Linked DNA regions of Homo sapiens. The main gene of each other region encodes a partner of the protein of the gene in region 2 in a complex. Each region holds a gene or a part of one and is shown on either strand. Other genes may lie near its edges.

The links.
Region 1: the proteins of THOC6 (region 2) and THOC1 are in contact, whole or in part, in a cryo-EM structure (PDB 7APK), measured with the Homo sapiens proteins. Residues at the interface, in NP_001334633.1 of Homo sapiens: Leu57, Ser58, Ser59, Glu60, Pro312, Glu313, Lys315, Thr330, Asn331, Gly333, Tyr334, Ala336; in NP_005122.2 of Homo sapiens: Ser227, Pro229, Ile230, Asp231, Tyr232, Leu234, Arg236, Val270, Ser273, Tyr274, Asp309, Leu312.
Region 3: the proteins of THOC6 (region 2) and THOC5 are in contact, whole or in part, in a cryo-EM structure (PDB 7APK), measured with the Homo sapiens proteins. Residues at the interface, in NP_001334633.1 of Homo sapiens: Val5, Pro6, Ala8, Val9, Pro10, Leu11, Gly12, Gln13, Val16, Phe17, Leu20, Gln21, Leu23, His24, Met25, Thr26, Phe28, Tyr45, Tyr80, Asp94, Glu125, Val126, Pro127, Glu128, Asn130, Gly146, Tyr170, His172, Glu188, Trp222; in NP_001002877.1 of Homo sapiens: Pro406, Gly407, Asp538, Ile539, Val540, Asp541, Ala542, Gly543, Leu544, Ser575, Ile576, Ser593, Asp596, Arg599, Glu602, Gly603, Asn606, Val607, Tyr609, Arg660, Phe662, Arg663, Gly664, Pro665, Ser666, Arg667.

What each region holds. Positions count from the first base shown.
Region 1 is NC_000018.10:216,048-223,047, forward strand, and holds part of THOC1 (THO complex subunit 1), read right to left. Parts: intron 2,923-7,000; coding exon 2,839-2,922; intron 587-2,838; coding exon 439-586; intron 1-438. UniProt on the Homo sapiens protein: Component of the THO subcomplex of the TREX complex which is thought to couple mRNA transcription, processing and nuclear export, and which specifically associates with spliced mRNA and not with unspliced pre-mRNA.
Region 2 is NC_000016.10:3,019,286-3,027,040, reverse strand, and holds the start of THOC6 (THO complex subunit 6), read right to left. Parts: upstream 3,007-7,755; 5' UTR 2,715-3,006; coding exon 2,676-2,714; intron 1,334-2,675; coding exon 1,218-1,333; intron 1,118-1,217; coding exon 1,053-1,117; intron 979-1,052; coding exon 875-978; intron 791-874; coding exon 753-790; intron 677-752; coding exon 628-676; intron 526-627; coding exon 454-525; intron 363-453; coding exon 260-362; intron 175-259; coding exon 125-174; intron 31-124; coding exon 1-30. Other genes in the region: HCFC1R1 (host cell factor C1 regulator 1), read left to right, coding at 3,100-3,194, 3,511-3,567, 3,680-3,808, 4,043-4,178; TNFRSF12A (tumor necrosis factor receptor superfamily member 12A precursor), read right to left, coding at 5,215-5,270, 5,352-5,486, 5,722-5,826, 6,550-6,643. UniProt on the Homo sapiens protein: Component of the THO subcomplex of the TREX complex which is thought to couple mRNA transcription, processing and nuclear export, and which specifically associates with spliced mRNA and not with unspliced pre-mRNA.
Region 3 is NC_000022.11:29,515,758-29,522,757, forward strand, and holds part of THOC5 (THO complex subunit 5), read right to left. Parts: intron 5,343-7,000; coding exon 5,241-5,342; intron 4,348-5,240; coding exon 4,251-4,347; intron 3,364-4,250; coding exon 3,249-3,363; intron 1,610-3,248; coding exon 1,506-1,609; intron 1,360-1,505; coding exon 1,272-1,359; intron 1-1,271. UniProt on the Homo sapiens protein: Component of the THO subcomplex of the TREX complex which is thought to couple mRNA transcription, processing and nuclear export, and which specifically associates with spliced mRNA and not with unspliced pre-mRNA.

The DNA.
Region 1 (7,000 bases), on a different chromosome or scaffold from region 2:
GGTTCAAGCAATTCCCTTGCCTCAGCCTCTTGAGTAGCTGGGACTACAGGCACGTGCCACCACACCTGGCTAATTTTTTATATTTTAGTAGAGACGGGGTTTCACCATATTGGCCAGGATGGTCTCAATCTCTTGACCTCATGATCCACCCGCCTCGGCCTCCCAAAGTGCTGGGATTACAGTCGTGAGCCACCGCACCCACAGCCCTGTTGAACTTTAAATTACATGCTGTACAGAAAATTATCAGTTACTTCTTTATCAACTCATGTATTTCCTGTAAATGTATATTCCAATGTGTTTTTCCCTCATTCTAAAACATGGGAGCTTGTGGATCACTGGTTTTTCACATGATTAAGTCAGTTTTTTGCTCACATAGTGACAGCAATTTTAAAGAAGATGTCAACTAAAGGGTATGAAAAGTTGATCTATGGTACTTACCGGTAATTCCTTGGCTAGCTTTATTACCATATTTTCAAGATATTCTGGTAAACTTTTAAACTGCTGGTTGGTTGGCTGGAAGAAGTGAGGGCTTCTCCGTGCTAATAGTCTCAGGGCTCTCCAACCATAATTTGAATTGTTCACAGCCCTATAAAAAGAGGTGTCAGGCTTGTAATTTATAGCTTTGTATTTCTGTATTCCCTTCTGCTCAGTTCTGCCATGTGTAATTCTGTATTTAAGGTAAATAGCTCAAAGTGCCATTCTTTGTATTTGAATCTTATTCCTAAAGAACTTTTCAGTATGTAGTCCACTGATAATAACAAACCAATAGATGCACATGTAACTAATCACAGGAACCAACAATGCCTGAAGAGGCAGGCTCATATGCAGCAAACACATTTTCAAAGTTTCCGTTCATTTTGTTTAATTTTAACAAGTCAACAAGTGTGTGCAGTACTGGCTGGATGCAGTACGTATACAACAGGAATCATCCATCTAGCTATTTGGAATCCATGAACTGTTCCCTAATGAAGTATAACAATGATCAGGGTGGTATACCATCAGGTGAGAAACAAACTGCAGAGAAATTCTAAAGATAATGCGTCAGAAATATGCAATGCTGCGGAAGAAACCAAACCACAAATTTATTCCATTTAAGAGTTTTGGATTGGAAGTCTCTTCCTCCCCTAAGAATAGCAATTTGGTTTATTTGGTCACCTCTTATAAATAAGCATATGTTACCTTTAGGATGTGCAGGTACCACTGAAGACTTAACAAAAACTACCCATAGACACTGGGGACTCTTCCCAAGTTAACACCTGCTGTGAGGCTTTGCCTAAACAGTTAAGAGCCTTCCTCTCTGACATATCTGTTTAGACAATTTGATTATTTTAGGCATTTTCAAAATTCACTGTCAATTATACACATCATTTTTCTTATTCTCCACAAAACCCTCTTTGGAGATAATAATTTGAACTATCACTTTAGGAATGAGTCCACCTAGTCTTATGTAACAGTGATAAATTAATATTCTTTCAATCGACAAACACTTTTGAGCCAGGCACTCAGTAGCTGTGGAGAGTACCTGAGGCACAGTAAGGCAGGCATTGCTAGTGATAAACACACAAGGTATAAGACAATTTCATAAGGATGAGGAAAACTTGAGAAATGAGAAAGTGGTAAGTGCCACCTTCTCATTTGGATAGTGGTAAGTGCCGTGAAATAAAAACCACGAGAATGCAAAAGAGGAGACCAGGGAGGGGAAGAGCTTCCCAGCCAGGGGGACTTTAAGCCACGGCAACCTTGGGGAAAAAGTGGTTCAAGCAAGTGAGACAGTAAAGTGTGAAGGTCCTGACAGGAAAGGGAAAGACAGGACCAAGAGGCCTGCTGTGGTTAAAGCAGAGGGGAGGCATGGCCACACAGGAGAGTATGAGCCAGACCAAGGAGGTCTTTTAGGCCCTGGGAAGGAGTTTGGAATAGGCACTCACTGGGAGATTTTAAGCAGATTAGACTTGGACAATTATTTTAAAGATCACTGGCTGATGCATGGAGCACTGACCACAACTAGAGAGATTAGTTAAGAGGTCACAGTAATTAACAACTCTGGTCACAGGGTCACACTAGTCACAAATACTGAGTGCTAACCACATGCCCTGTAGGGTTCAAAGTGCACTGTCTTATTTAATCCTCAGAATAACCCTGTGAAATGGGTACTGTTACTATTTAACAGATGAGGAAAGGGAACTGGCGGTTTAATAATTAAATTAGCCTTAGTTGCCTAGTAAGTAAGTGGTAGAGGGAATCGAACCTATGCATTCTGACCAGAGGCCTCTTGCCTTTAAACCACTACTCTTCAATTCCTATTTAAAGCCATGAGACTGCGGTGTCACCCAGAAGGTTCTAGATAAAGAGGCTAAGACCAATTCCTGATGTTACTCCAAAATTTGAGTTAGGCAGAGGATGAGGAGGCTGAAATGGAATGTGAGGTGGAGTGGGCAACGAGGGCAAAGGGCAAACAGAAGAACCATGGATTTGGATTCTCATGGACGCCAAGAGAAGAAAACATTAAGGGGAACAGGATAGGTTAACAGCTGCTGTGAGATACTGTGCTTTGAAGGGTAGAGAGAACAGAACTAATAGTTGGAGAGAAATGGGGATCAGGGGGAGTTTTTTTTTTCTTATATTTTGAAACAAGGGTGATTCCAAGTCATGCTTAGTTAACAGGAATAATCCTTGAAATCAGGATGTGTACTAACAAGAACTTGGAACATAAACTCACCTAAGAGAAAAAGCACTATTCTATCTACTGCCTCTCTTAAGAGGCTTTCTAGTATACACACAATTCCTAAGGAAGAAACAAATTGAAGAAAATTAAAAGGAGCTAATGAGGAGCATACTTACTTATATTCATTTTCCACCATATTTTCAGGGTCTGCCTGTTCAATGGCTTCTTCAAAGAATTCCTCCAAAGTGGGCATGTGTTCCCTGAGCGGTACAAAAATAACCAGTGAGGATGGCATATATTCTTAATAATAAATACTCATGAAGTGGTGGCAGGACAAGATTGTGGGCATGTGTTCCCTGAGCAGTACAAAAATAACCAGTGAGGATGGCATATACTCTTAATAATAAATACTCATAAAGTGGTGGCAGGACAAGATTGTGGGCATGTGTTCCCTGAGCGGTACAAAATAACCAGTGAGGATGGCATATACTCTTAATAATAAATACTCATAAAGTGGTGGCAGGACAAGATTGTGGGCATGTGTTCCCTGAGCGGTACAAAATAACCAGTGAGGATGGCATATACTCTTAATAATAAATACTCATAAAGTGGTGGCAGGACAAGATTGTGGGCATGTGTTCCCTGAGCGGTACAAAATAACCAGTGAGGATGGCATATACTCTTAATAATAAATACTCATAAAGTGGTGGCAGGACAAGATTGTGGGCATGTGTTCCCTGAGCGGTACAAAATAACCAGTGAGGATGGCATATACTCTTAATAATAAATACTCATAAAGTGGTGGCAGGACAAGATTCTAATGGCCCCATACTTTTAGTTACAGTTTTGATTACGTGGGAACTCCAGACTTTTAAGGAAGTAAAACCGTCAAAACTAAATTCAAAAAGGACAATAAATAAAGGGGATAGTCTAATACTAAATATTACATAGTATTTACTACATATAATATTATATACTTTAATTACACACTATAATATATAAATATGTTGCTATTCAAAGAGGGCAGCCAGGGTATTTTATAGCATTTGAATTTTACCAGCAAATAAACTTTTACATTAAGTCCCTATCCACGAATTATTTTTTCTTTAAACCAGAATTAAACCAAAACTAATAATCAGACCATAATACGATTTCAAGGGTTTAACCTTTAGCTCTTATTTAAATTGTTACCATGGTAGCATGGTTGATTTTTAAAATGCATCTTTCTTGAATTTGTTTTTAGAAATAAAATTTTGATACAGGGTCAAGCAAAGAAATGAGGTCTCAGGATCAGAAGACATCTTCTAGAGTAAAACTAGGAAAATGGGCTCTTTTAAGAAAACTATCCCAATATCCATTCATTTTCTAATGCTACAGATACTATATTCCATTTTATGAACATGCCCCAAGTTATCCATGTCCTACACAGAGATATTTGTCTTCCCACTCTTTGCTCTGACAATGTTAAATGAACATTCTTGCACCTGTCTCCTTGTAGATGAACTGATTTCTTTAGGCACTGGGCCTTCAAACTTCCACTGCAACCCACAATAAGAAATTCATTTTACACTGCAACCCAGTACACACATATATGCAAGTATATGTACAGATATATATAAGTAAAGCTAATGCTTCACAAAAGTATATTTCCTATTTCATTTAAAAAATGCTAGTTGAAATTACTAAATTGACTTTACAAACCACCAATGATTCTCAAACTTAGTTTTTAAAAACACTATTCTGATCAACACACCTACTAGTGGGGCACAGACATCTTTAACATTCAGATAGAGTGACTGTGCCATCAGACTCCTACCAGCAGCACTGGCAAATTATTTTTATCCATAATTCTTATAAAATCTGGGTATTTTTAAATTACTGAATCTCTTAGCTGGAAACTGCTTGCTGTAGTTTTTAACTGTACTTCCAGTTACTAGTGAAGTTCCCCGTCTTCTCAGAGGTTTATTAAGGTTTCTACTTCTGAATCTGACTATTCATTTGTACATTTTTCTACTGGGTTGATTCACTCTCACAGATTTGGCAGGAATCAATCATGTTAGAATTTTATCTATTTTTCCTGGTTTTTGTTTTTATTGATCTTCTCTTTTGATTTTGTTATCTTCTCTATTGTTTGTTGTCTATTTTACTGATTTCTAATCTTATTTTACTTTCTACTTCTATGAGTTTACTTTTCTTCTGAATGACTCTCAGTGTCAGACTCTTATTAGCTTGGTTTTTAGATTTCATTCTTTTTGAAAGTGTAAACACTTAAGGCTATACATTTCTCTTCTGTGTTCTACTGAGTTAGATCTCAAAAGTCTGAACATGTAGTGTTTTCATTATTATTTAGCTCTACATTTTCCAATTTCCATTATGACTTCTTTGATTCAAGGGTTATTTAGAAGTGTGTTTAAAGGAGTTGTAAGTATTTTTGCTTTTGCTATTCACACATAATTTACAAAAACTTGTGGTTTCTGTAAGACCAAGCCTGTTAATTATTTTGTTAAATTCTAAATGTATTACACTAAGTTTTTTCCACCAAATTTATTAAATTCTGAGAAAGGTCTGTCAAAATCCTACTAGATGGTAGGTTTTCTGGGTGGTGGTGGATGGTGAAAACTGACCCTGGGTCAACTTCTCATTCTAATTTTGTCAAATTTTTGAGAACACATTCTTAGAAAATAAAGTTTAAAATGTGTATATTTCTATTTTTTCCTTTTATCTTTATGCAATGATTGCCTTTATTTTTAATAATGCTTTCTGCTTTTAAGCCTTTTCTGCCTGATATCAATATAACTATGCCTTTTAAAAATTACGTCTTTTAAAAGTTCTTTCAGTTTCAACCTTTCCATATCTTTATTTTTAAGGTATATTTCTTATAAACATATAGATGGATCTTTTTTTTTTTTTTTTTTTTGAGACGGAGTCTCGCTCTGTCGCCCAGGCTGGAGTGCAGTGGTGCGATCTCGACTCACTGCAAGCTCCGCCTCCCAGGTTCACGCCATTCTCCTGCCTCAGCCTCCCAAGTAGCTGAGACTACAGGCGCCTGCCACCACACTTGGCTAATTTTTTGTATTTTTAGTAGAGACGGGGTTTCACCGTGTTAGCCACGATGGTCTCTATCTCCTGACCTCATGATCCGCCCGCCTTGGCCTCCCAAAGTGCTGGGATTACAGGTATGAGCCACCGCGCCTGGCCGATAGATCTTTAAAATATAACACCAATTTCTGTCTTTGAGCCAGAAAGTCCATTTCCATTTATATTTGAATTTAACCATACTGTTTTGTACTTTCTGTTGTGTTTTCTGTGCTTTTTTCCTCCTCTCCTACCTTCTAATTTACTTGCTTAAATTTTCTGTATTTACTTTTACCCCTCAATTTATTTAAAAATTACATATTCCATTTCTTTCACATACTTTACAAGCATGTTTGACTTAAACCATAACATTCTTTAATTCTGACCACCCCTTCTTGTCTTACATGTCACTTTTATCAAGTTTACCTTTTAAAATAACCCTAAATAATAATTATTACTATTTTATAACAGTGAATTCTTGATAAGATTTATTCAGATTTCTTCATGTTTACCAAAGTGTCTACACAGTAATCCTTTCTGCAATTTACTCCTTTCTGGGTTCAGTTTCCTTAAGACAGCTTTTTTACTGGGGACTGTTGATAATTTCTCATAGTTTTAGTCAATCACTCAACCACAACTGTTTAACTTGTTACAGAATTTTTTAGTTGAAATGTTGAAAAAGCAAGTAATACTTCTAGAAATGAGAAAATATAGTCATTGAATTTACAAAACGAGCAGGTTTAACAGCAGTCTGGACATAGGGAAAGTAAGAATTACTGGATTAATGATTAAGAAATCACCCAGAAAGCAATACAGAAGGAGCAAGAGTTGGAAACGATGAGTTAATGATAGTTGAGGAGGTCCAGCAAACATCTAATGGCAGAAAGAAATAATAGAGAATGTGAAAGACATTTTCAAGCACTCATCCCACTGTCTTCTGATTTTTGTTGTTCTTGAAGTCAACTGTTAGTTTAACTTTGCTCCTTTGTAGGTTGTCTGTTTTTTCTCTCTGGTGACTTTATTATCATGTACAGAGATATGGATTTATTTGGTTTATCCTCCTTAAGTATTATACTTCTTGAACCTATGAATTCATGCCTATTCTTAATAATTAACTCAATTATTGCCTCTTTCCCATTCTCTATTATTTCTTTCTGCCATCAGATGTTTGCTGGACCTCCTCAACTATCATTAAGTCATCGTTTCTAACTCTGCTCCTTCTGTATTGCTTTCTGGGTGATTTCTTAATCATTAATTAACCCA
Region 2 (7,755 bases):
CCAGCGCCCATTGTGGGGCCTCGAGCACTCCTGGGATGGGGAGGGGAGGAGGGAAAGAGGTGAAGACCTGGAGAATTCAAGGAGTTGGGGGAGAAGAGGACAATGGCCACGGTCACACCCTCACCTCGTGCTTATAGACCTCGATCGTCTGGACCTCCTTGGCTGTGCGCAGGTCTGCGGGGAAAGAACTGTGAGTGGTGCCCCACTTGCCTCAGCCTCCTTCACTGCCATCTTGCCCTCCAACCAGCCACCTGCTTACCCCAAAGTCGAACAGCTCCATCCTCGCCACCTGACAGCACCTCTGGGCTCCTTTCCCGCAGTGCCAGGCAGTGGATGTAGTCTGTGTGGCCCCGGAGGACCCTCTGCATGTAGAGGGGCGATGTCAGGAGGAGACCTAGGAAGAGTGCCTCTCCCTGACCTAGACCTGCTCTAGGGCTCCAGGACCCTGCTCACCGTGAAAGTCCCAGTTTCAAGGTCCATAGTGTGCAACTGACAGTCTCCCCCAGCCAGGATGAGGGAATTCTCCTGTGGAGGAGCAGGATGAGGCAGAAAGTCAATGTCAAATCAGGATAGGCAGAGGGTGAAGGATCAAAGTTTGGACCAAGAACAGTCACATGGGGCTCAGACCTTGGGGACCAGCAGCAAAGCGTTGATCTCAGGCACTTCCAGGCTGGTCCTGGGGAAGGAAAGGCAAGGTCAGTGAGGAAGTGGCTTCACCCTGATGCACCCTCTATCCACGTGGCCCTGCTCACCTGTATGGAGGCTGACGACGCCACAGCTCCTTACAGCCCTTCAAAAGAGAAAATACCAGGTGACCTCAAAGGCTCTCTCTGGGTCCAGGCACCCCAGCCCTTTCCCAAGCTCGACTCCTTACCTTCTTGAGCATCTCCGCCCAAAGCCAGGCCTTCACCTCCCCATCCCCAGCACTAAGCAGATGTCGATCGGTGGAAACCATGCTATAGACGGGCCCATCATGGGCTAAAGAGAAATGCAGAACTGAGTGAGCCAATCCCACCCAAAGTCCTGAAGCCAGACTCCACAGGTATACCCACCTTGGAAAGTCACCACCGGCTTCTTACTTTCCTCTTTGGCTTCTGAGCTCAAAGCAGAGGACAAGCTGCAGGGACAGCGGAGGGGACCCAGGAGTCAGAAACGGGGGCATCCGTCCCATGAGGGCCAAGTGCCAGGGCTAATGGGTGGACAGCGGCAGAGGGTACCTGAAGATGGCAATCTGCCCGTAATTGTTGCCAGCCGCCAGAAACTTCCCACATGGTGAGACGCTCTGGGAGAAGATGGTCATATGGAGCCGCTGCAAGGCCTGGAACACCTCTGTCTGCAGGGAAAGACTGGATGAGGCCTGCCTGGGACGTATGAAACCTCCCATCCACAGATTCCTCCCTGCTTCCCCCAAAACCTGCCAGGCCTCCCACTGTCCTGACTTCTCAGCCTTCTTTTGAGGCGGCCCCGCCCCAAGCCAGCACCTGCCCATGCAGTCCCATGGGTGGCTCCAAGAAGACACTGAAGAAGGGGAGAGTTGAGGTGATGCCTCAGGGACCTCTGAGCAAGCACCCAGGCCTCTCCTGCCAGCTTCCTCAACTGACAAATGGAGCTCACAGAAGATTCCATCACAATTAGATGAGCTAGTGTATAGACAAGAGCTTTACATGGGGCTGTCACTCAGTGCTTAAGCCGGGTGTGGTGGTTCATGCCTGTAATCCAGCGCTCTGGGAGGCCAGGAGTTTGAGAGCAGCCTGGGCAACATAGTGAGACTCTGTCTCAAAAAAAATTTAAAAATGTGGGGCCGGGCGCAGTGGCTCACGCCTGTAATCCCAGCACTTTGGCAGGCCAAGGCAGGTGGACCACCTGAGGTCAGGAGTTCAAGACCAGCCTGACCAACATGGAGAAACCCTGTCTCTGCTAAAAATGCAAAATTAGCTGGGAGTGGTGGCGCATGCCTGTAATCTCAGCTACTCAGGAGGCTGAGGCAGGAGAATTGCTTGAATCTGGGAGGCGGAGGTTGCGGTGAACCCAGATGGAGCCACTGCACTCCAGCTTGGGCAACAAGAGTGAAATTCCATCTCAAAAAAAAAAAAAAAAAAAAAATTTGGCCGGGCGTGGTGGCTCACACCTGTAATCCTAGCACTTTGAGAAGCCAAGGCAGGCAGATTACCTGAGGTCAGGAGTTCGAGACCAGCCTGGTCAACATGGTGAAACCCTGTCTCTACTAAAAACACGAAAATTAGCTGGGCATGGTGGCACACGCCTATAGTCCCAGCTACTTGGAGGGCTGAGGCAGGAGAATCGCTTGAACCTGGGAGGCGGAGGTTGCAGTGAGCTGAGATCGCGCCACTGCACTCTAGCCTAGGTGACAGAGTGAGACTCTGTCTCAAAAAAAAAAAAAAAGTGCTTTGCAAGAACTAGAAAATTAAAAAAAAAAAAAAAGTACCTCTACTACCCCAACATAGAAAAACGTACTGATTTATAATTCCTACTCTCTGACTTGCGTTAAGCCCCTGAAGCACTTCTGGGTTACTATCCCGCCCCCCTGGTCAGAGTCTGAGTCCCACAAATAGCCCAGGCAAAACAGGGCTCAGGGCACGATTCCCTGCCCGCCCCGTCCCAGCCATGCGTGAACTACAAACCCCAGAAGGCAACGCGCACCACGTCCGTCTCACCTGACCCAGAGGCACCGCGAGCGGCACAGCTCGCTCCATCTCCAGAACTACAAGTCCCAGAGTGCTCCGCGCGCGACGCAACCTCACGAGGCCTTACGTGCCTAGAGCGGTTCCTCTCCGTGGCGCCCTACCGCCTTCGGCGCGAAGGTGGCTGGTGCGTACCGTCCCGAACCCTAGGAGCCGAGGTGAGCGCCGCGAAGACCCCCGACATTAAGAAGTGGTGTCCACCGCAGCCCCCTTAAGCCGGATACCCTCCCCCACCCCGAGGAGCAAGCCTGCCTTCCGCCACGCGCCGCCCGTCTTCCGCGCCCGCGCAGAACCTCGCGGCTGTGCCCGCCTAAAGCCACGCCCATCCTCTCTTGGCCACGCCCTCAGAGACTCCTCCCCTGTCGCCCAGATCCCACCCGCAGGACCCCAAAACCCAATGATCCTGCAGCAGCCCTTGCAGCGAGGCCCCCAGGGAGGGGCCCAGCGCCTCCCGCGGGCCGCCTTGGGGGTGACTTGGGGCCTGGACGCCAGGTGCGTGTAGGGGACCAGGGTGGGCCTGACCAAGGGCCGCAGGAGCTTTGGCTGGGTGCTCAGGACTGGTCTGCAGGATGAATACGGGGTGGGGCGAATCGGCGGGGCTTAGGCGTGAGCTGAGATGGGACTGGGGCTGCGGCTGAGGGTCGAGACTTCCGAGGTACCCTGCTGGATGGTCCAGGAGAGCGGGGACCGGCACCAGCTGAGACAGGAATGGGCTTGGGGCTCCTGGCTGATGCTGCAGGCTTAGGCGGGCAGATCCTTGGGAAGGGGCCAAGAGGGTGGGGTGCACCAGGCTCTCTTTTTTTCCCAGCTCCCCTCTCCGAGGAGCTGTGCCCATGAGCACCAAGCGGCGCCTGGAGGAGGAGCAGTGAGTTTGGGGGCAGGGAGGGACTCCCAACAAGATCTCTGTCACCTCTGGTCCCCAACAGGCTGCCTCCTGTGTCAGTATCCCAGCCTGCCTCTCTGCCATCTCTCCCCAGGGAGCCTCTGCGCAAGCAGTTTCTGTCTGAGGAGAACATGGCCACCCACTTCTCTCAACTCAGCCTGCACAATGACCACCCCTACTGCAGCCCCCCCATGACCTTCTCCCCAGCCCTGCCCCCACTCAGGTAGGTTCCTCCACTGGCCAGGCCTTCTGCAGAATCACAGGCGGTCCTCACAGCTGACCTCAGGCCCTGCCTCATCGTGCCATTTTTAGCTCTAGCTGACCTCTGGGTTGTTTCCCATCTTGGCTCTTTGGAAAGTGCTGGGAACCCAGGAGCCCCTGGGGACCTGGACCTGGTGGGAGGTGCTCAGCTAGGCCAGCCTCAGCTCCATGCCCTGACAGTCATTTCCTCTTCTAGGAGCCCTTGCTCTGAGCTGCTTCTCTGGCGCTATCCTGGCAGCCTCATCCCTGAGGCCCTCCGTCTGCTGAGGCTGGGGGACACCCCCAGTCCCCCCTACCCTGCAACCCCAGCTGGGGACATAATGGAGCTCTGAGTGCTGGTGGACAGTGCCCCTCCCACCTTCCTTCTTCCCCACAACAGAAGAGACCAGCGACTCCCGCAAAGGGACAAGGTTCCTCCCTCTCCTGCAGAGTAGGCATCTGGGCACCAAGACCTTCCCTCAACAGAGGACACTGAGCCCAACGGAGTTCTGGGATGGGAGGGGTGGGAGCATGGGAAGGGAGGCATCCCACCCCCAAGAAGAACTGAATAAAGATTGCTGAGCAAAGGAAGGCTTCAGTCTGGAACCTGGGGCTTTTGGGGATGGTGGAGAGGGCAGAGGCGCGGGATGCTGGGGTTTCTCCTCAAGATCTTCCCTGGAAAACTGTTAGGGCCAGCCAGGTCCTTGCCGGCTGAGTTCCAGGCATTGAGAATGTGTGAGTCAGAGCCTCACCCCCGCCCCCGCGGCTGGCTGACTCACTCCCTCCCTCCAGCTCAGGGGAGTCAGTCGGGGATCACTGCCTCTCCAAACCATTTAAAGTTAAAGATTCTTTTATTAATAAATTCTCCCTCCCCTCCAAACTCTCCCCAAAATAAATATCTCCTCCCCGCTTTGGGGAGTTGGGGGGGTCTGTATCTTAGGGCCAGCCCTCCTAGTGGGCCAGCCCCCTAGTGTTAAAAATAGGTCCCTAACCCCCCAGGGTGACCCCCGTGGTGGAATTTCAGGACATCTGAGTGAGTGGGGCCTAGTGTCAAGTCTGCCCCCCAAGTCAGCCTGGCCCCCAGGGCCTCTAGGAAGGAGGGCACCCCCCTCCCCTGTGCAAATGCTGCAGTTCCTTAGTCAGTGTCAGCTGTTTTGTGTGAGCCAGCGTGAGGCTCCCTTTCTGTTCTGGAGCCAGAGGCAGGGCAACCAGACACCTTGGAAGGTTCCCCTGAACCCTGGGCCCAGGCCTCAGAGGTGATTCACCGCCCCCCACCCCCCTTGTGGTTGGAGGAGCTTGGCTCCCGCCGCGTCTGGGAGGCAGAGACTGGCTCTAGAATGGATGAATGAATGATGAGTGGGCGAGCCCCGGCTGGCAGGGGGCACATTGTCACTGGATCAGCGCCACAGCTGGGCAGCCCTCTCCGCCGGTCTCCTCTATGGGGGCTGCAAGATAAGAGGTGGGGTCGTCAGCAGCAGAGAAAAGGTCGAGTGCTGACAGGGCTGGGCAGGCCAGGGCACACTTACTGGTGAACTTCTCTCTCCTGCGGCATCGTCTCCAGACCAAAAAGCCAGAAAGCAGCCCCAGCACGAAGGTCAGGCTCAGAGCGCCCCCAAGGATGGGCCAAAGCAGCCGGAAGGGGGCAGGAGGTGCTGCAGCGCCTGGGGGCGGGACTCGGAGTCAGACCTCGCCCCTCTCCAGGCCAGCCCCGCCCCCTAAGACTGAGCCTTCTGCCTTCTCCCAAACGTGGCCTCCTCCCTGACCGGAGCCCCCTCCCAGCTCCCACCTCCTCCCGAATGATTTCCCAGATGCAAAGCTCTCGGCCCCGCTCTGCGCACCAGCCACCCTCCCTCCCAGTCTGGGGTCCGCTGGCCACTGGCCCTGCCCCCCACTCACAGCCCAGGCAGAAGTCGCTGTGCGGTCGCGCCCTGCAAGACGCGCAGTCCATGCACTTGTCCAGGTCCGCGCTCCAGGAGCTGCCGCGGGAGCAGGGGGCGGTGCCTGGGGAGGGGGCCTCGGGTCAGAGGCTGGGGGCGGGACTCGGCTATTCTGGGGTCTGAGGTCAGGGTCGGCCGGCTCGAATAACGTGAGTCACCGGCGCCCTCCCCGCGCATTCCTCACAGGTGACCGCACGGCCCGACCGGGACACGGCAGCTCCGGGAGGGAGGGCGTAGCGCGGGACGCTGGGGGTGGGGGGGGTCAGGTCCCCACAACCCCCCTGCCGCCGGCGGGTGACTCACTCCTGGGCACCGGGCCCGACCCCAGTCCCTCCCCCCGCATAGCTGGGCACTGAAGTCACCGGATGGAAGGGGGCACCCCACATGGTATAGAGGGCACAGACCCTAGTGCCTCTCGACGGCCTCCCCAACTCGTCGATCACTGGGGCTAGTTAGACCCTGTACGGACCAGGCTGGGGGCGTGCCCCTTCCTAGACTAAACATCCCGCCCTCACTCACTTTCTCTCTCCATTCGAAGTACTTCGGACTTGTGGAACTGAAGACCCCCCCCAACCCCAATTGGACGGTGGGAGAAACTGAGGCCCGGATTGTGAATGAAGCTTGGAGAGTGATGGAACTTCCCACAGCCGGGAGCGAGCTGTTTGAAGGCCACCTGACCCCAGATCCCCACATCCGCCTGTTCCCCCAGTTCGGCGCTGTTCTCCAGACACCCAGTCCGGCTCCCGAGCCCCGGCCCGGGGTTCCCCGACCCCGGAGTCCCGCGTACCTGGCGCTTGCTCCCCGGCCACGGAGCGCAGCAACGCCAGCCAGAGCCCCAGCACGAGGAGCCGCAGCAACCGGCGCAGCGAGCCCCGAGCCATAGTGCACGTCCTGCGCCCGCCGCTGTCTGCGCCCGCCGCCGGCCGGCAGGGACCCACGGCCGCCGCCCCGCCCCCGCCCCCGCCTTCCGGGGCGGAGCTCTCGCCTCCGCCCGCCTTGAGGTCCGCTTCGGGACGCCCCGCCCCGCGGCGCCCGCTCAGTTCAGTCATTCATTCAACAAAGTCCTGGCGCGGGAGCTGCCAGGACCCCGCAGGGACGCAGACCCCCTTCCTTGCCCAGCCGGTGATCTAGTCCAGCGTGCGTGGTGTGGGGAAATCAAAAATTAGACACGAGTGCTCGCTTCGGCAGCACATATAGAAATCAGACACGAACGGCCGGACGCGGTGGCTCACGCCTTTAATCCCATCAGTTTGGGAGTCTGAGGCAGGCGGATTACGAGGTCAGGAGTTCGAGAGCAGCCTGACCAACGTGGTGAAACGCCGTCTCTACTCGAAATACAAAAATTAGCCGGGCGTGGTGGCGCGCGCCTGCAATCCGAGCTACTCAGGAGGCTGAGGCAGGAGAATCTCTTGAACCCGGGAGGCAGAAGTTGCAGTGAGCCGAGATCGCGCCACTACACTCCAGCCTGGGCGACAGAGTGAGAGTCCGTCTCAAATAAATAAATAAATAAATAAATAAATAAATAAACAAACAAACAAACAATAAAAAGAAATCAGACACACGACCAATCCATGCAGAGATCACTGCAGCTTCCTTCCCCCCACCTCCCCTTGAGATTGCGTCTCACTCTTGCTCAGCCTGGAGTGCAGTGGTACGATCACGGCTCTCTGGGCTCAGGTGAGCCTCCCACCTCAGCCTCCCAAGTAGCTGGGACCACAGGCCCTGCCCCACCACGTCCGGCTAATTTTTGTATTTTTTGTAGAGACCAGGGTCTTACTATGTTGCCCAGGTTAGCCTGGCCACTACAGCTTTGTTAAGGGCCCGGGGGGTATAACAATTAAACCTGAGGTCAGGAGCTCGAGACCAGCCTGGCCAACTTGGTGAACCCCCGTCTTTACTAAAAATAAAAAAAAGAAAGAAGTTAGCCGGGCGTGGTAGTGGGCGCCTGTAATCTCAGCTACTCGGGAGACTGAGGCAGGAGAATTTCTGGAAC
Region 3 (7,000 bases), on a different chromosome or scaffold from region 2:
GCAGTTGAGGCTGCAGTGAGCCATGACTGAGCCACTGTACTCCAGTCTAGGCAACAGAGCAAGACCCTGTCTCAAAAAATAAGTTAAATTAAATTTTGAAAGGGGAGAGGCCAGGCATGATGGCTGATGCCTACAATCCCAGCACTTTGGAAGAAAGGCCAGGAGTTTGAGACCAGGCTTGGCAACATAGTAAGAACATGCCTCTACAAAAAAACAAAAACAAAAACAAAAAATCTTAGCTGAGCATGGTAGCATACCTGTAGTCGCAGCTACTCAGGGAGCTAAGGTGGAAGAAGGATTGCTTGAGTCCAGGAGTTCAAGATTGCAGTGAGCTATGATCGTGCCACTGCACTCCAGCCTGGGCGACAAAGCAAGACCTTATCTCTACTGAAAAAAAAAAAAAAAAGGGTGTAGCGGGGAAAGGATGGAAAGCAAATGCATAAAATCCAAATAGTGGTCACTTATTAGGAGAAAGGGAATAAAGTGGGATAGGGAGGCCTCAACTGTATCTGAAATATTCAGTTTCTTCAGAATTTTTTTTTTAAAAGACATGAAGAATAGAAAGAGAAGAAAGTGGGGTAGTGAGGACAGAAACTCTGATACCAAAGAGTTCAGCCTTTCCTTACAGTTCTGGAACTGTCTTAGAACTACAGACAACTTCCTCAGCTCAGCACCAAGTCTTGAGGGTGTCAGATCCCACGGGCAGTGCCAGGCTTGCTGCGGCTTGGGTGGGACAACAGCACAACGGCCCAAACACAACATCCCAGGACTTCAGCAGGGAGCCCTGGCAGAGTCAGATGCCAGAAGAGGTATGAAGAATCAGAGCTTTCAATGCCTCTAAAGTGAGTGCAGGGACTGCAGAAGAGGGAGCGAGGCCCTGTGGCCCTGCCCTTTACAACCTGAGGGTGACACCTCAGCCCTGTTATGAAGAGGGAGAAGGAGGAGATGTCCGGTACTAGAAAGCGGTGAAGGAAGGAGCAAAGAGCTCAGGCTCAGCGCTCAGACTGGGCTTGCAACTAAGCCTGAATTTCCTCCCATGTAAAATAGAAATGAAAGCACCACCCCTAGGACTGCAGTGAGGGTTCAGTGATACACAGCGTGTGTGTGACTGTGTTGCAGAATGAGTCCTTGCTGAACAGGCTCTCACGATCATTATTATCTGTTAAGTCCTTGCAGGACTCCAGGATCTTCTGCTTTGGGCAGCCCCGGAGAGTGTTTGATTCTTGGCAGCGCCCTTTGTCTAGAACCCCTGTAATCAGCAGAGCAATTACCTGTGCCCCTTTCGATGAGCGCCATGTAGTAGAGATTGGTGTCCCCAGCCAGTCCCGCATCCACAATGTCTTTGGTGAAGTGCAGCTCCTAGAAGAGGTACCACAGACAAGAGGTGAACTGCTGGCTCCTCTGGTTAAACCCCCTGCTCTTCCAGTGAGGTGGCAGGAGCTGAAAGGTGACATGGTCCTGCAATCCTCAGGACAGTAAGGGTAACTTGTCACTCCTTCACCTACCATGTAATCCTCATGGGCAACTGTCACCCATTTCACCAGGCGAGAGACAACCTTGGCAGGGAAGAGGTACTGGCAATCACTGGTAACTGGCACAATGCCATGTTCTAAAAGAGAACAAGACAGATGACGTCACAGGTAGAAATCAGGTGCCACAGATGGGTAACTAGCATCCTCCTGGGGCTCTCTGAAGGGCTCAGATGGCCCGGCCAGCTATCCTGGTATACCTGGTACTCAGGAAGTACCCAGGTCAACACGTGCCAGGAATGCAAGCATGTCAACCTGACCTTCACCCAGTGCTATGTGCTTGTGGCCAGATCCAGTGCCAGCACTTATGGTGCTTTCTCTTTAATGCAAATGATAGCCTGCCAAAGAAAAACCCTTACAGTCAGAACTAGGGAGGGTGCCCCTGCAGCAGTGACTGTTAATTAGATCAAATAGCATAGAGGCCTGTGTTTTCATAGCTGACCTTGATGGAGGAAACAACTGAAGTGTTGTGTGTCAGGGAGAAGAGCCAGATAACTGCTCCAGGGTAAATTCCTGCTGGCATTTAAATAAGCAAATATGCCAACACAGTAAGTACTGTCCAGAATGACAAGTTCCCTACCTTGGGACAAAACAAACTCAGCAGTGCTGATGGGGAGCACGGCCCGATGGACAAACATCAGTGCTCTGGAGAGATCGGCAGCCATGTGGAGTCTAAGAACTGGTGGGGAGTGGTCTCCAGATGTGTCCTGGAAACCCAATGCCTTTCCTGACAGAGACTCTTTTTTATTTTTTACTTTTTATTTTGAGATGGAGTCTCGCTTTGTTGCCCAGGCTGGAATACAGTGATGCGATCTCAGCTCACTGCAACTTCCGCCTCTCAGGTTCAAGCAATTCTCCTGCTTCAGCCTCCTGAGTAGCTGGGAATACAAGTGCACACCACCATGCCCAGCTAATTTTTGTATTTTTAGTAGAGACGGAGTTTCACCATGTTGGCAGGCTGGTCTTGAACTCCTGACCTCAAGTGATCTGTCTGCCTTGGCCTCCCAAAGTGCTGTGATTACAGGCAAGAGCCACTGCGCCTGTCCCAGAGACTCTTTTAGGTCAGAAAAATCTTGACCCCATCCCCCTGCCACATGGTAAGCATTTGACAACCACTTACTGAGTGAATAAACTAAAAGAAGCCCCCAAATGCCACCACCTAAGTCAGTGGCTCATCATTATCACTTGGGAGCTTAGAAGAAAACATAGGCTCAGCCTCACCCTGGGGAACACGAGGTCAGTAGGCCTTGGGGAAGGGATATGCGAGTTGCTCCCTGGATAGCTATATTCAAAAAGCTGACTGTGAGCCACAGAGCCAGGGGCAGGGGTTCACTGTGCTCAGTTCTTCCCCCAGCACTATGCTCAGTGCCTGGCATGAATCAGGATCTCACTAAATATGTGTCGAATGCACATCAAAATCTGCAATGCATGACCTAGGATGAACTGCCCCGACCAGTCCACAAACTTGTGCCACCCAATGGCTCTGGGCCTCCTCTGTGAGGCAGGACAGCACTGATGGCTCTAAGGGGGAGCTCGGTCCTCTGCCTGGACAGGCCTGGAGCTCTCCCCAGTGGCTCTGCCAAGATGCCCACTCCGTAAAGCCAGGAATCCAGGTCTTGTATTTGTCATCAGGATTCAAGTTTTGAGTGAAAGGCTAAGTTGTTGTTGTCCGTGTGTTGTCTGAGTGACTCTTAAACCACTGCCCCATCATCAGCTTACCTAGGGATGCAAACTGTTTGTGGAGGGCCAGGCGGGACTGCACCCTGGTCTTCAGAAGTTTCATGGTGGTCTCCATGTGGCTGGCGCTCAGCGAGTGGTCAGCAATCACTGTTTGCTGTGAGTGACAATGAGACACATACACGTGTGCTCCCCCATCCCTTCCTCCGGGCACCATCTCTCTCCTGGGACCTGCCTGTCTGCGGCACCCTGGATTATCCATGCCCCAAGATGGGTACCCTTTAGACATGGCAAGGTTTATCTGCTATGACAGGCCAGACGCTGAGTCCTGGCAGAAACAACACAATATGCTGCGTTCTTGAGAAGCTGTGTCCAACTCCTGAGGAAAGGCAGGCTTCTGCTAAGGGGCCAGGCCCCCTGGATTTCTGCTCATGCCTCATATTTGGTACTTGCACACAAGAACAAGGGCAGCAGAGCCTGCAGACATGAGTCCCAGAGCAAGGACTCAAGTTGCCTGGGTCTAAAAGGCTACTAGGCTCAGAGAAAATGCAAAAGGTACGTAAACTCTTGTAAGTCTAAGACATTTTAGTGTCCTGAGTGGATAGAAGACAGGTCACAGCCCTGAGGGGACACATTCTGCCAGTTCAAAACTCCAAAGGCCATGACAGGCCTTTTTTTTTTTTTTTGAGACGGAGTTTTGCTCTTGTTGCCCAGGCTGGAGTGCAGTGGCATGATCTCAGCTCACCGCAACCTCTGCCTCCCTGGTTCAAGTGATTCTCCTGCCTCAGCCTCCTGAATAGCTGGGATTATAGGAACGTGCCACCACACCCAGCTAATTTTTTGTATTTTTAGTAGAGATGGGGTTTCATCATGTTGGCCAGGCTGGTCTCAAACTCCTGACCTCAGGTGATCCACCTGCCTCAGCCTCCCAAAGTACAAGGATTATAGGCATGAGCCACCGCACCTGGCCTGGCCTTTCTAGAGTCTATACAGGAAGAGAAGAGGTAAGCTCCTCAGCCAACTAGATGAGATCAGTGTACAGACCTGGGGCTGCTCTTTGGGGAAGTGGAGGCCACCCAGCTTCTGCACCCACAAATAGGGGTGACCTAGCTCAAGTACATAGTCGCTCAAAGTCAGGATGCTGCAGAAAAGAAGATAAATAAAATTGTGCTGTAAGTCATTTCTGCTGTGGTCCCAGGATACAGCCTCCTCCCACCCTCCCATGCCCCACAAACCATCCAGTCCTGCAGGTTTGGCCATGTTCACAGCCAGGCTGCTGGCAAAGCCCTTCAACTTTGTCAGTTCCCTACTGTGAATTTCATCTCTCTCACATTCACTTTCCTCTTTTTCCTTTTCTTCTTGCAGCCTTCAACTTATAAGCAAATATCAAATACAAAGGCAGTGTACTAATGTCTTTATTGGTCTACCAATTTAGAAAATCTTTTAAAAATTAATCCTCGGATAATTAAAATGTCAAACATTTTTATTGTATCACGTATTATTATGCTTCCAGAGGGTTTTTTTTGTTTTTCTTTTTGTTTTTGTTTTGAGACAGGGTCTGGCTCTGTTGCCCCCAGGCTGGAGTACAGCGACATGACCATGGCTCACTGCAGCCTCAACCTCCTGGGCTCATGCAATTCTCCCACCTCAACCTCCCCAGTAGCTGGGACTACAAATGCCCACCACCATGCCTGGCTAATTTTTGTATTTCTTGTAGAGACAGGGTTTTGCCATGTTGCCCAGGCTGGTATCGAACTCCTGAGCTCAAGGAATCCACCTGCTTTGGCCTTCCAAAGTGCTGGGATTACAGGCGTGAGCCACCACACCCAGCATGTTTCCGAGTTTTGATCCTTCCACCCTTTTTGTGATCTCCCTTTGCCTTGTAAGCAAGAAAGAACAAACATTTCCTTCTACCCTGTGGTCTTTCCTATCCTCTGGGTCACCTCTGGCCCTAACAGGTCTCCAGCATTTAGCTTGAGCCACCAGAGAAACTCAGAAGTAGAGAGCTCGGAGAGGAGGAAACTGCTGACTCACCCAACTTTATCAAACTGATACTGATTGGCTGGATTCGGAGTTTTCTTTCCATGATCCCCAGGATACAAGCAACTCAGGACTGAGTCAGGAGACAGCAAGTCACTAGAAAAGGAAAAACAGTAAGCAGTGAGAATGCAGCCAACATCTTTCTTCAACATAGGCTTGGGCATTTGGGGATGGTAATGCCACGTCTCACTGATGACCAATGCCACCATTTATTGAAGGCTTTCTGTGGGCCAGACCGTTTATATGCTTGAGGTCATTGCATCCTTACAACCCTATGAGGGAGGATTATCATTTCCATTTTATAGAGGAAAAACTCAAGGCTTTAAAAGATATGGCTTATTCAAGATCACACTGCTAGTAAGTGCTAGAGGTGGCTTTATATTGTCTGATCAAACAGACTAGTACTCTTAATCATTAATTTTTAAAAAACTCATCCCTTCAAGATTTATATGGTGCCTAAGGCCTTACCTCAGGGGAGCAAAGTCCCATGACACCATCAGTAGAAATAATTTCAATTTTCATAAAAGCAGAACAGACTCCTTTCTGCTACAGAGAGAACAAGTGTATAGCTTTGGTGCTATGTCTATCTCACTTTGACCAAATCTTATGCTCATCACAGGAAAAGGCCCCCTGTATGTTCCCAGAAAAAGATACAATCACATACACTGGAGACCCACAGCTACAAGCGGAGAGAAATAGTGACGCCACTGCCACCCACCTGGGATGGTTCGGGCACAGTTTGTCATTAAATGTGACAAGCAAAAAAGAGATAATGTGGGAGGGTAATGTAGTAATTTTATCACAAAGGATGACAAGGCCCATTCTTTCCCTGAACCAAAGGGGGTTCTCCTTCATCTTTCCATGGATAACGTCAGGAGCAACTTGGGCAGCACGTGCCGGTCCTGCGTTTTGGCCCCAGCATGCCTTCAGGAACTCCATGCTAGGACAGTGGAGGCTTCCAGCTCTTCCCTACTGTGTCTCACTGAGTATCCCTGTTCCCCAAGGTCTTTGCCCCCTTCACCACCTCAAATGGAGAACTGACTACCAAACAAATAAAACATTTCAGGCCAGGCACAGTGGCTCACGCCTGTAATCCCAGCACTTTGAGAGGCCGAGACGGGCGGATCATGAGGTCAGGAGATCGAGACCATCCTGGCTAACACGGTGAAACCCCGTCTCTGCTAAAAATACAAAAAAAAAAAAAAAATTAGCTGGGCATGGTGGCGGGCGCCTATAGTCCCAGCTACTTGGGAGGCTGAGGCAGGAGAATGGTGTGAACCCGGGAGACGGAGCTGGCAATAAGCCAAGATTGCACCACTGCACTCTAGCCTGGGTGACAGAGCGAGACTCTGTCTCAAAAAAATAAATAAAATAAAATAAAATAAAATAAAATAAAACTTTTCAGTCTTTTAGCAAGTGTTTAGGGACTATTACTAATAGATTGATTCAATCTATTAGTAAATAAATAAAACAGAACTAAAACTGCCCACGATGAAGGTTATTAATTGACAAAACCTGATGAAGGAATCACCTTCTTGGCAAAATTTATATCTGCAACATATGGCTAAGACAACTGAACTTGGTAAAAATGATGAACATAAAAGGAAAGGCTATTTATAGTCATAAAAATATAACACCAAAACAAAAAAACTTCTCAACCAGTCAAATCTTTGTTATAAAATTTTGATAAAAAGTAAGGGATTAAAAAAACCTTAGTGGCCGGGCGTGGTGGCTCACGCCTGTAATCCCAGCAC